Homo sapiens: one gene and its partner. The protein of the gene in region 2 interacts with the protein of the main gene of each other region in a pairwise test. Each region holds a gene or a part of one and is shown on either strand. Other genes may lie near its edges.

Region 1 (7,032 bases), on a different chromosome or scaffold from region 2:
GTAGGGTCACATTAGCATGATACCCTGAGACACTGATGGTGTGGTCAGCTCTCCGAAGTCTTTAACGCCTGTACTCTGAGGAGACCCTCAGATCCCAGGGAGCTGTCGAGGGAGGAAGCAATATGCCCATTGGAGATGATTCCAGTGCTGCTGGAACCAGGACAGCCAGCTCAGTGCTGGGCAGATGGCAATGACAAAATCTCCCCTCCCAGGTGAAGAAATGTTTCTCGCGCAATTGTCCTTCCACGCCCTCTTCTCATGGTCCAGTTTCTAGCACAAATATGGGACACCTGGGATTCAGTTGTGATACGTCAATTAATTAGTTGTGTGATCTCAGGCAAGTCTTCATTCTGTCTGTCCCAAAGTTCTTGGAGGATCTAGGAGTCACAGGGCGATAACGCCTGCCCTACTTAGCTTACAGGGTTGCTATGAAGAATACAACTGGATGACAGGTGGAGAAAGTGCCTGGGAAAGTTTCAACTGCCTGATAGATACAAGGTATTATTATTTCTGTTTATTAGCCCTATCTATCTCTGTCACATGGTTTCGTCTTACAGACATGTGCTTTGGAATTCCAGACACTTACAATGTTCTAGACAACATAAAAACACTGTTTTAATTAGAAATATGGCTGATTTCTATGCTGCCCAGCAAGGTTTCTTTTTATTAAGCAGACCAATTACAGACACTTCTAAAAACTTGCCTGATTCACCAAACCACAAAAATGATTGTGAAAATTTTACATACAACATGTGTCTCAAAGTCAGCATTGGGGTGGGAAGAGTTAGAGTCAGATGGCTCTTCTATTCTGTACCATTTCCATGTTTTCTCTGGACTTTATCTCTCTCTTCCCTTCTCTCTCTCTCTCTCCCGCCCCCTGCCTGCCCCCAACACACTCTCTTACTCTCATACACTTTTATCTCTCTCAGTGTAAAACATGTTAATAAAGCAAGTCCAAAAATCCATACTTTTGACTGTGCAAAGAAACTCTCTGTGGTGCTTCTTTACTAAAATCTACAATTAAGTAGAAATGGTCCAGTTACAAAGCTGTCTTACTAAGAGGCTTACTACTTTGGAAAATGACTGTAATTTTCTATAATTTCCAACATCTAAAAACAAACCTATAAACCATAATGAGATAAACCATAACTACTCACACCCACTAGAGGGCACTAACAAAAAAGATGGGCAATAACAAGTGTTGGCGAGGATGCAGAGAAACTGGATCCTTGATACACTGCTGGTGGGAATTTGAAATGGTATAGCCACTTTGGAAACAGTCTAGTAGCTCCTCAAAAGGTTAAATACAAAGTTATATGATTTAGCAGTTCCACTCCTAGGAATATTATGGAAATAACTGAAAACATGTCTTAAAAACAACTTGTACTCAAATGCTCACAGCAGCATTATTTATAATAGCCCCAAAGTGGAAACAACCCACATGGCCCTCAACCAATGAACAACAAAATGTGGTATTAGTCAACAAAATGGATCAACATTATGGAATATTACTCAGGAATTAAAAGCAACAAAGTACTAATACATGACAATATACCTGGTGAGTACATCAATGGCAAGGGTAAACCTTCAAAGCATTATGCTAAAGTGAAAGGAGCTAGACACAGAAGGCCACATCTTGCAAGATTCTATTTATACAAATGCCCCAAACAAGTACATCTACAGAGATAGAAGGTAGATTACTGGTTGCCTGGGGCTGAGGGGAGTGGGCAATGAGGAGTAACTGCTAATAGGTACAGCATTTCCTTTTAGGGTGGTGAAAATGTTTTAGAATTACATAGTGGTGATGGTTGTACAACATTGTGGATATATCAACAACCACTGAATTGTTCATCTTAGTAGGGTGGATTTTATGATATGGGAATTATGTCTTAATTTAAAAAATAAACCTGTGCAAGATAGACATACATAAAATTCAAACATTACAGACATACATAGAAATGAAACTTTCCCTACACTCCTCTCCAACGGTGCTCCCAGTTTTTTCTTATTCTCTATGCTGATTTTATTTATATGGTGTGTATATTTAGGAAACAAACTAGGACCTTGTGCATACTGCTTTGTGATTTTCACTTATGTGACTTGTTCATTTTTTTTTACTGGAAGAGAAAAATTCCCAACCTGACTTCTTAAGGAATATAGCAAATCCAGAAGTCATAAAGAAAAAGACTTATACCTTGACTACATAAAACTAATATTTTTTTATATGGGAAAAGGTACAATAAATAAAGAAGCAGACTAAGGGAATATCTAAGCAACATTTATGAGAAAGGGTTAATATTCCTAATATTAGGGATTAAGATTCCTACATGTTGATTTAAAGTTAAACAATACAAAAGAAAAATAGGCAAAGAGGTAAACCAGCAATTCACAGGAAAGGAAATATAAATGTTCAATACACATAAAACAAGATGTCAGCCTCATTAGTAGTCACCATTTTTTTGCCCATCAAATTGGCAAAAATTAAAAAGACTGGTGACAACTAGTATGGGCAAGAATAGGGGAAATTGGACACTCTAAGTTGCTGATGAATATGTGAATTGCTACAACATTTTGGGTAGGTCATTAGGTAGTATTTAATAAATGGGCACAACCTTTAGCCCATCTTTGAAACTAACCCACAAAAATAAATGCACCACTACTAACAGTAGGGTCACAAAATGTTTATTGCAGCAATGTTTATCAGAGGGAAAAACTGAAAACAACTGAAATGTCTGGTGATAAGTGACAGCTGAATGAACTACGATTTACGAGAACGAGAGATATTGGAGAAACATGTCTTGGCCCTGTGTGATCGACCTACAGCCACGTGCATGGTAGACAGCTACGTGAAAAAAGGAAGCTGCTAACTCTACAACATAATGCCATTAAAATAAAACCCAAACCCATAGAGAGGTGAATATATATTTGTATATTGTTGTAGGCAAAGAGAAAGCCTGTTAAATTTGGTATGTTTGGGGCTGGGTATGCTGTGTTCTAGAATTTAAAAAAGAATGTCATTTTAAAAAGCTGATTATTGATAAAGGATAATACTGCGCTAATTTGATCTTTCTCGAAGCCAGGGAACAGTTAAAAAGGATGGGAGAAGCCAACGACTGTGAGATGGAAGGGCTGCTTAACACGGTATAACTACAACATCTTACAGAATACAAGGTATGTTAACACTTCACTTTTGGTCTAACGTTTTGGCTCCCTACGGGGTGGAGGAAGACAGATTGGGAAAACACACGCGAAGTATTACACTGGCGTCTGGCAAGGGGTGGAAACTCCTGTCTTGATTTCTGACTCTGGTGTCTCCGTGGGGTTCACTTGAAAGAGAAGGCACCTGGATCCCATATGAAAGCAGGGCAGGGCAGAATTAGCCCAATAGATGCTGGCTTCTTCTGGATCAGTTCAGGAAAACAAGTTTTGACTTGTGGAGAAGGATCTGCCTTGAGCACTATTACTGGGGATAATACTTCAACCAGGGTCAAAGTAACTCCCTAAAGCAGGTTATCAACTCCTCGAGCAGCAGTCATGGCAAGTCCCTGAGACAGTTCTTGGAAACCTAACCTCCTCTACTCTAGGAAAACTAAGATGTCAAATTGGGAAAAACCTTAACTTTACTGTAACTGTCCTGTCCAAACTGTACCACTGAGAGGGGCTATGTTTTCCAAAATGGCATAGAGCTTTGGTAAATGTCTCTTCTTTCACTGTTCAGGAATGCAGAAGATGGATTTTTCTTTCTTTTTTTTTTTTTGAGACAGAGTCTCGCTCTGTCACCCAGGCAGGAGTGCAGCGGCGCGATCTCGGCTCACTGCAAGCTCCGCCTCCCGGGCTCACGCCATTCTCCTGCCTCAGCCTCCTGAGTAGCTGGGACTACAGGCGCCCACCACGACGCCCAGCTAATTTTTTTTTTTGTATTTTTTAGTAGAGACGGGGTTTCACCGTGTTAGCCAGGATGGTCTCGATCTCCCGACCTTGTGATTCGCCCGCCTCGGCCTCCCAAAGTGCTGGCATTACAGGTGTGAGCCACCGCGCCCAGCCATGGATTCCTTTTTTAAAGGTAAAAATAAGAGTATTTTTAAAAGTAGCGGTATTTCTCAAGGGGGGAAGGCTAGTCCTGTTCATGACTATTTTACAGGTTGAATGAGTCCTCCTTTTAATTGAGTTAATATTTTTAGTTCTAAAGTAAACAACTGACATGGTCCCAACATACACACAAAAAATGTGTTCTTGCTGTGGCCCCAAGACTTTAAGCTCTCTTTTGGGATATTGGCGGCGAGGGTGGGGGGACACAAAAGAAGATGTATCTGAAACTGACAGTTCTTTGAACATATGCAAATGTCATAAAAACACCACCCTCCCTTGAGCTTAATGGCCAGCCTTTTATTTTTTTTTGAGACAGGGTCTCACTTTGTCACCGAGGCTGGAGTGCAGTGCCACCATCTCAGCTCACTGCAACCTCCTTCTCCTGGGCTCAAGTGATCCTCCCACCTCAGTCCCACAGGTAGCTGGGACTACTGGCACGAGCCACCACGCCTGGCTATTTTTTTATATTTTTGGTAGAGATGGGGTTTCACCATGTTGCCCAGGCTGGTCTTGAAATCCTGAGCTCAAGTGATCCACCCACCTCGGCCTCCCAAAATGCTAGGATTACAGGCCTGAGCCACCATGCCCGGCCCCAGGCTCCTCTTAAAGGAGAGACAAAAAACAAAGACTGCAGGCCTTTGTGCTCTTCTCCCTCCACCAGTCCTTGGTAGGAAGCCATGATGCGGATGAGGTGGACGCAGTGACTTGCCTTCCACATCAGGCACGCTCATTCACGGTTTCAGAACAAAAGGAAAACCTCACAAAAGAGGTCAGAGGGAAAGAATGAGTGAGGAGAGAGAAAACACAGCCTTTCACTATTTTCGGGAAAGCTCAATCTTCCCAATGTCAGGGACACAGATGTGAGCCTGGCTTGGGGCACTGGGCACAACCCACCACCCCAAACCTAAGGGGAGGTGGTATATTCGCATGGGAATAGCTCCCATTCATATTTCCTTTCTAATTTATTTTAAATTAAATCCTTGCAGTGTTTCTCTTTCTCCATGTCTGCTAGGCAGTTAAGAGAGGGGCAGAAACCAGGCTAGCAAGCAAAGAAAGTGACCACAGGGCATTTTTGCAGTTGGCACAGGGGCCTTTGGCATCTATTTTCAAAACACGCCCAAACTAAAACCTCATGTGCTTCTCGCCAATCTTGCAGAGGCTGAATAAACTGCACGTGGCTCTGTGAAAAGCCACCTCATCCCGTATGGCATTTCTGCTTTCTGGCTGGGTTAACATCTCTGCCTTACAGAGGCTGGTAACATCCAGAGAGCACAGATGGGTACCAAGGTTGCCGGCCTCAGGAGGACCATGTTTCATTTCTTCCTGTGTTTTTGGGATACACAGCTCTGAGAAGGGACTTGTCACTGGGTTTGTTCAATCCCGCTCCTGAGGGGGGTCTGAGACACAGGTAGCAGTCTCAAGCTGGTACCTTGTCAATCAGCAAGACAGTGCAGTGAACGCCAGGTCACGACACAGACTCTCTCAGGTCTTTCTAGGGAATGTTCATGTTATTGGGGAGGTGGGTCCTCTGCAGGGGCCTCTTCTTTCCTCTCCTTAGTCTTGTGAGTCTTGCTCACGATGTGGCTGCTGTTGCCCCTGTTCCCCTCTTCCAGCAATGGTAAGACACACATGGAGCCTCTGGACATTTTTCCTAGCAAGTACATTGCTTTCAGGGTGGATGAAACTGCTACTCTACCCCACTACTTCTCAAAATGTCTTCCTAGCATTTGAGGGAGCTTGGGAAATGATCCATTATACATTATGTGTGGCTGACTAGGGTGCTTCTGTGATGACCCCAGGACCGGGATAAACGGTGAGGCTTCCATCACCTTCACTGTGATGGACATGGGATGGCCCTGGGGTCTTCTGTTGACAAGGAAAATCTAAAAGGTGCTGGGAGAGTGTTGATCTATTTGGTTTCAATCAATCAATCTGGAAAGAGATTCTATATCTTCCTTTACGCTGAACGGGTGAAGGGCAAGGATGAGGGTGATGAACATGGCATCCTTTCAAAGCAGGTGTAGGAGGGGGAGAGAGGGAGGAGAAAGAGGGGGGTCTGGAGTGCCTCAGTGTACTTCATGCATTAGACTTCAGTATATTTTTACTCAGCAGCTTGCCTCTGCTTGTCGAGTATTGAGATCCAGATCAAATATCAAGTGCTTTTCTAGGACAGAAGTGGTTAATGTGGAATCACCTTCAGCATCCTGCCTCTGTGGATGGGGAAGGCAGTCTCTCTACTGTCATCTTTAATCTTAGCACGTAAGAACAATGTGGGAGTGGTGGGGGGCAGGGAGTAGTCCAGATAAAGGGCCTAGAGAGTGGGTCACATGCTTGAATTTATGTGGGTTCCCTACCTCCTGGCCCCTGTCCTGCACAGGACACGACTCACTGTCTGCTTCCGAGAACGATCCGGATTCGTCACTGGAGTTGGTTCCATAAGACTGCTCACATTTAATTTGGGGCCGCACTTGGTTGTACATTCCATCTCCCATCAGGCCTGGTTCCTGATGTTCTGTGGCAAGGAATCTGGCTCCCTGGGAACAGGGCGAGGAGGAGAACTCACAGAGAGGGAGGCTGCAGGGTGAGCCCCCGCTCCCGTCCTCCGCGTAGGAATAGGAAGAGCAGGAGCTGGAAGTCCTGGTCCTGGTCTCCAAGGGGGGTGAGCGAGGGCAGACTTTGATTGGTACCGGGCAGCTGGTGTTGGGCCGCATCCTTCCTGGCAAGTGGTCGGCCATCAGCCCACCGTGGGAGTAGGCCTGCGAGCTGGGGAGGGACTGGCCGGCTCCCACCCACAGACCCTTTGGCACCGGCTCAGAGAGGTCTTTGTCCAAACTGCTCACCCCAGAATAAGAATGCACCGAGGTGCTCACTTGGTCACAAGCGCTGGAGGAGAAGATCACGCTCCTCCGGTCCAGCTCTCCCTCCTGTTTACAGAGAGCCTCC
Region 2 (7,032 bases):
CTCCTAAGACTCAGGTGATCCTCTTGCCTCAGTGCCCCCAGTAGCTGGGACTCCAGCGACTGCCACCATGCCCGGCTAATTTTTGTATTTTTAGTAGAGATGGGGTTTCACCATGTTGCCTAGGCTGGTCTCTCCTGGGCTCAAGTGATCTGCCCACCTCAGCCTCCCAAAGTGCTGGGATTACAGGTGTGAGCCACCAAGCCCAGCCAAGCCAAGCAGATTATATATGAAAGCTATAGAGGAAAGACACCTTACATTAAAGTGTGAAGTCAAATGGTTCTCAGGCATGTAGATAAGATCTCATGGGATTAATTTCAACTTAAGAAAGTTGAGACTTTGGAATAAAAAAACCAGCTGAGATGGGTCAATTCCTTCTTGCTTTCTCTTACTCAACAACTCTTTGAATATCTACTGTGTGCCAAGCCATGTGCTAGTATGGATATAGCCATGAGTAAGAATTCACAAGTTTACAAACTGGTGGAAACGGTTCATGTTGAACAAGTAATAACAAATACATGTGGGTTACAAATGCTACAAGGACGCAGATGAAGGAATGTCAACCACATCTAGTGGAGTACATCAGAAAAGACTTTGATAAGGCAAAAGGCCAGAAAGAGGAAAAGGGAAGCCTCTCCAAGGAGGAAAGATGAGTGTGGTTGGACAAAGGAATGACAGGAGGGCTGCTTGGCTAGAATGATGGGAAGGAGGGGCATGCCAATAGAGAAGTCTGAAAGCAAATGCTACCATGTTAGATCTCACACAATGGGTAGTCACTAAAAGATTTGAAGCAGAACAGGAGGATCAACTGGAGCCTCGTTGTAGGAAGATTCATTTGGTGGCAGCAGAGAACGAGCTAGATAGTTCTCAAGCCTTTCCCGGGTGTGAAATGAAATGAAAAAGGACAATAAAACAAATAATAATAAGATACAATTTAAAAAGAAGTGGACTATAAATGCCAAAAAGAGGAAAAAAAATAAGAAAAAGAGATTAAAAAGAGAAAAAAGAGAATGAACTAGATAGGAAAAGATTAAAAGCAAAAAAAGATCAGCTTTAATTTATTGTAACCTTTGGCCACTGGGTAAGAAGTAAAGGTCTGAATTAAGTGGCAGCAGGAAAAAAGAAAAGGAAATAAGGGAAGAAATGTTCTGAGAGTGAAAAATAATTGAACTTGGCAATTCAAATAACTAAAACTCAAATACATGGAGAAAATGGTACAGCAACAGAAATCACAGAAATAGAAACAAGCTTGGGAGGGGAGGTTCTTCAGCGACACTAGGTGAAAAGTGCCAGCAGGACACCAGGAGGGCAGGCAGCGGCCCTGGGAAAGCAGCACTCACATAGGAGATGGCAGCCAGCTCCTGCCGGGTGTGGGCCGCTCCTACCAAACCCCGGCCCTTCATGGGGCAGATGCCACGGTCATAAACTGTAAACTTGGTCCCCATGAGGTTGGATCTGGAGTCAGGAGAAAAAGTCACCATGATGATCTGTATTTTTTTTCTTATACAAACACAATCTAAGAGAAGGAAAATGGAAGCCTATTTGCCTGTTTTCCAAATGTCTCAATGTTCATCATCACTTTTTCAAAAATATCTCATTAAAGCAAGGAAGGAACTGAGATTTTCTTTTAACTTTTTATTTACTTACTAATTCGAGACAGGGTCTCGCTCTGTCGCCCAGGCTGGAGTGCAGTGGCAGGGATCATAGCTCACTGCAGCCTCAAACTCCCAGGCTCAAGTCATCCTCCCACCTTAGCCTCCTGGGTAGCTGGGGCTACAGGTGAGAACTGCCACGCCTGGCTAATTTTAAAGTTTTTTGAAGAGATAATGTCTCAGTGTGTTGCCCAGGCTGGTCTCAAACTCCTGGCCTCAAGTGATCCTCCACCTCAGCCTCCCCAAATGCTGGGATTATAGGCCTGAGCCACCACACCAGCCTTATTTTTTTATTTTTTTGAGACAGACTCTCATTCTGTTACCCAGGCTGGGGTGCAGTGGCACTATCTTGGCTCACGGCAACCTCTGCCTCCTGGATTCAAGCAATTCTCGTGCTTCAGCCTCCCGGGTAGCTGGAATTACAGGCTGTTCTACCACACCTGGCTGATTTTTGTATTTTTAGTAGAGAGGGAGTTCTGCCATGTTGGCCAGGCTGGACTCCAACTCCTGACTTCAAGTGATCCGCCCGCCTTGGCCTCTCAAAGTGCTGGGATTACAGGTGTGAGCCACTGCGCCCAGCTTTTTTTTTTTTCCTTTTTCTTTTTTTTTAAGATTACAACATCAATACATGCTAGTTGTAACCAAGATAAGGACTGTTCTGCAACTATAGGAATAAGACTATCAGAAAGAATAGGACAGTGATCTAAGGTTGCTTTCACCTAAGCTTGCCGACATAACTTTCTCCTTCACGAGATAAATCAACTGGATCAATGGAGATAAGGTAGTTGGCTGTTTTGCTCTTTTTCCGCTTTCTAGCTGCAAGAAGAAATATCTGGGAAAAGAAAAAGTGTCAGTCAAAAATGAAGTCCAGAGAACCTGCCCCACCTCTGGTCATGGTTGTCCTACATATTCATTCAGCCAGTGCTTAGCAAGTCCTCAGCATATGTCAAGCTGTTAATCTTTGGGCCTTTATCCCTTTCTCTAACTCTCTTATCAGAATTCACTATCAGGCAGGGTGTGGTGGCTCACGCCTGTAATCCCAGCACTTTGGGAGGCCGAGGTGGGCAGATCACAAGGTCAGGAGATCGAGACCATCCTGGCTAACACCGTAAACCCTGTCTCTACTAAAAATACAAAAAATTAGCTGGGCGTGGTTGCAGACGCCTGCAGTCCCAGCTACTCAGGAGGCTGAGGCAGGAGAATGGCATGAACCCAGGAGGCGGAGCTTGCAGTGAGCCGAGATCATGCCATTGCACTCCAGCCTGGGTGACAGAATGAGACTCTGTCTCAAAAAAAAAATAAAAAATAAAAATAAAATAATTCACTATCAGGGTTTTCTTCCTATACAGTTTTTCTAAATTCACTAGCTTGATTCTCCATATAATTAGTTACAACTTCATCCCTAAAACTTCCAGTTAAAAAAAAAATCTCCAAAGCTGGGCCAGGTGGCATGAGCCTATAATCCCAGCTGCTTGGGAGGCTGAGGTAGAGGGATCACTGGAGTCCAGGAGTTCAAGGCCAGCCTGGGCAACCTTGCAAAATCCAATAAATAAATAACAATCAATGTTCATCCAATGCCATGATTAAGAGTCTTTCCAACCTTAGGAGAGACAGGATCCTGAAAACCTTCCCATTCTTTACTGTGATGGCTTTTTTTTTTTTTTTTTTTTGAGATAGGGTCTCACTCTGTCACCCAGGCTAGAGTGCAGTGGTGCAATCACAGCTCACTGCAACCTCTGCCTCCCAGGTTCAAGTGATTTTCCTGCCTCAGCCTCCCGAGTAGCTGGAACTACAGGTGCATGCCACCACTCCTGGCTAATTTTTTAATTTTTTGCTAGAGGCAGGGTCTCCCCATGTTAGCCAAGCTGGTCTCGAGCTCATGTCCTCAAGGGATCCACCTGCCTCAGCCTCCCGAAGTGCTGGGATCATACGTGTGAGCCACCGCACCTGGCCTGTGATAGCTTTCTTCATGCCATGGGGACACAGACAGAGGAATGTCAACCACATCTGGTGAAGCACATCAGGAAAGACTCTGATTAGGCAAAGGGCAAGAAGGGACAAAAGGGAAGCCTCTCCAGGGAGGAAATACTCTTTTTTCTATACTGCTGTTGTGTTAAACCACTGTGACCTCAATGGCATGAATACCATCCTATATAGGCATCCTTCCTAAACTCTCCTAGACTAGGACCATAATAGGGAAGCAGGAGAGTGGCAGTGGCTAAGCAGGAAGACTTTAGAATTATGCAAAATAGGTTTGAATTTGGCTCTGCCACCACTTAGTGCAACGTGGGGTAGGTAAGTCACTCCCTAAGCCCCAGTTACCTCATCTTTAAAGCAGAGGTAAGAAATCCTACCTAACAAGGTGGCTGCAAGGATTACAGGTGATAATATATATAGATATATATGCATATGCTTGGTCTGTCGTAAACACTCAATAAATGGTGGTTAGAAGAATTAACACCTAGTATCATTATCTTATTTCTAGGCTCTTAAAATCATCTGTTAAGACCTGGTATTAATACAAAATTAATAAAATAAAGTTCATCGCTGGCTCAAACTTATAAAATAAATTAGAACTTCTAGGGTGAGAAACAAGACATTTAACTTGTAGGTCCTTCTGTATTTCTAATTCCTCCTATTCCCTAAAACTCACTCTCCTTCCACAATGTCATGTTCTTCCGTAATAAAAAGAAAAACCAAAAGAACAAACAGTAACATTCAAAAACTCAATCATGGGAGACAGGTGAAAATAATTACATTAACAACTACCCGTCCATTTTCCCACTTCGTGGATAAAGCTCTTATTTGTGGGAGGGTAGAGCTTGCTGCCTATTAGACCATGAGCTCTTTGCAGAAAATGAGAACACAGCATCTGGGGACTGAAAGATACAATCTACTTCCAGCTGGCTTGGTCTAATACCAGAGTTAGTTCCCTAAGGCCCATCAACAATCTATTCCCACAACATTCTTCTCTCTCTCAAGAGTTTTCTTAGAAATCAATTCTCATACCTTCTGATTTTCTTCTTTTTCCAAGTACATATAGTAGGTGGGGAAGAGACCCCGATCCATTCCCCTTTTATCCCGGATTATCCGACATCTTACTGTGACACCTTGAGGGGCAGGACTATACACAAAGTCCTCCAGGTCGTCTATGTCTCCCAGGAGGTTATCAGCTGGTTGGGCGGCAGTAGCAGAACCGGAAGTGCCTGTATCCTGAAAGGACAGCCATACATGAGCAACAACAGGCCGAGACTCAAAATCTGATTCTCTTTGAAAAACACTTAGTGGACAAAGCAACTTAGTAATTTACCCGTGTCTTCAGTCTTCTGACAGAATGAGGAAAACTGAAAAGTTAAATTAAGTATATGAATATTGAGAGTAATGAAGAGTAAGTATCAAAATGGGACAAAGCCTCACAATAGCTGACCTGAGACAGAAAAAATTAGATCATAAACTAAATTTGAGCTTACACTTCTGAAGGAACCCTCACTCAGTAATGGTATTTAAATACTGAAGATATGTTTGAGGGCTGGGCACGGTGGCTCATGCCTGTAATCCCAGCACTTTGGGAGGCTGAGGCGGGCGGATCACGAGGTCAGGAGATCGAGACCATCCTGGCAAACATGGTGAAACCCTGTCTCTACTAAAAATACAAAAAATTAGCCGGGTGTCATGGCGGGCGCCTGTAGTCCCAGCTACTCGGGAGATTGAGGCAGGAGAATGGCGTGAACCCGGGAGGCGGAGTTTGCAGTGAGCTGAGATCATGCCACTGCACTCCAGCCTGGGTGACAGAGCGAGACTCCACCTCAAAAAATACATAATAATAATAAATAAATAAATACTGAAGATATGTTTGAGAAAGAGTCAAATTAGCTCTAATGGAAGAAGTTTCAGAACTACATACGGTTGAATTCTGGCTTGATGCAGAATTGGGTCTTTCTAAACATGCTGACTGGGATATTCCATCAGTCTCCTCATCGAAGTTCACACTTTCAGAGATATCTAGCAGAAAAGGAAGAACTGTTAGCACTGCCAACACTGTTTAAAAAAGGTCTTTGAAACAAAGATAGTTTTAATTTTCTTGCTTAAAACATTCTTAACTATTCTGACCGTAAACACAACTATTTTGTCCAAATACATAAAACAGGCAAATTCATAGAGACAGAAAGTAGAATAGAGGTTACTAGGGGCTGGGGGCAGGGGAGAATGAGGAATTATCTTGAATGGGTGTGAAGTCTCTGGGATGATGAAAAAGTTCTGGAGATGGATGGTAGTGATGGTTGCACAACATTGTTAATACACTTAATGTCACTGAATCTCACACTTAAAATTGATTAAAGTTGTAAATTTTAGGCAGGGCAGGCTGGGCGCGGTGGCTCATGCCTGTAATCCCAGCACTTTGGGAGGCTGAGGTGGGCAGATCACGAAGTCAGGAGATTGAGACCATCCTGGCTAACATGGTGAAACCCCATCTCTACTAAAATACAAAAAATTAGCCGGGTGTGGTGGCACGCACCTGTAGTCCCAGCTACTCAGGAGGCTGAGGCAGGAGAATCGCTTGAACCTGGGAGGCGGAGCTTGCAGCGAGCCGAGACTGTGCCACTGTACTATAGCCTGGGAGACAGAGACTCTGTCTCAAAAAAACAAAACAAAAAAAATTTAGGCAGGGCACAGTGGCTCGTGCTTGAACTCCTAGCACTTTGGGAGGCTGAGGCAGAAGGACTGCTTGAGGCCACCAGTTTGAGACCTGTCTCCATAAAAAGTTTTTTTAAAAAAATTAGCTGGTCACGATGGTACCTGTGTGTCTGTAGTCCTAGCTAGCTGAGGTGGTTGGATCACTTAAGCCCAGGATTTTGAGGCTAAAGTGAGCTATGCTTGTGCCACTGCACCCCAGCCTGGGTGACAGAATTACACCCGAACTCTTTTTTTTTTTGAGACGGAGTCTCGCTCTGTCGCCCAGGCTGGAGCGCAGTGGCGCGATCTCGACTCACTGCAAGCTCCGCCTCCCGGGTTCACGCCACTCTCCTGCCTCAGCCTCCCAAGTAGCTGGGACTACAGGCGCGCGCCACCATGCCCGGCTAATTTTTGTATTTTTAGTAGAGACGGGGTTTCACCGTGTCAGCCAGGATGGTCTCTATCTCCTGACCTCGTGATCCGCCCGTCTCGGCCCACCCGAACTCTTAAAAAAAAAAAAAGTGTACTTTTTGTTATTTGGAAGGGAAGGGAAGGCTTCAGTAAAAACAGGAAAACTTGCTAGACAAATTCTAAAAAGAGCTGCAGCACTGGTAAATTATTATGATTTTTTGAGATGGAGTCTCACTCTGTTGCCCAGGCTGGAGTGCAGTGGCACCATCTCAGCTCACTGCAACCTCCGTCTCCTGGG

What was found. Proteins that work in one complex are often made in the same cells at the same time.
Region 1: the proteins of TULP3 (region 2) and BACH2 interact in binary tests that used the Homo sapiens proteins (3 or more experiments, as listed by UniProt).

The regions. Positions count from the first base shown.
Region 1 is NC_000006.12:89,943,827-89,950,858, forward strand, and holds part of BACH2 (transcription regulator protein BACH2), read right to left. Parts: coding exon 6,444-7,032; intron 1-6,443. UniProt on the Homo sapiens protein: Transcriptional regulator that acts as a repressor or activator. Binds to Maf recognition elements (MARE). Plays an important role in coordinating transcription activation and repression by MAFK.
Region 2 is NC_000012.12:2,928,867-2,935,898, reverse strand, and holds part of TULP3 (tubby-related protein 3), read right to left. Parts: intron 6,935-7,032; exon of another isoform or gene 6,874-6,934; intron 5,652-6,873; coding exon 5,554-5,651; intron 4,863-5,553; coding exon 4,659-4,862; intron 2,482-4,658; coding exon 2,369-2,481; intron 1,453-2,368; coding exon 1,338-1,452; intron 1-1,337. UniProt on the Homo sapiens protein: Negative regulator of the Shh signaling transduction pathway: recruited to primary cilia via association with the IFT complex A (IFT-A) and is required for recruitment of G protein-coupled receptor GPR161 to cilia, a promoter of PKA-dependent basal repression machinery in Shh signaling.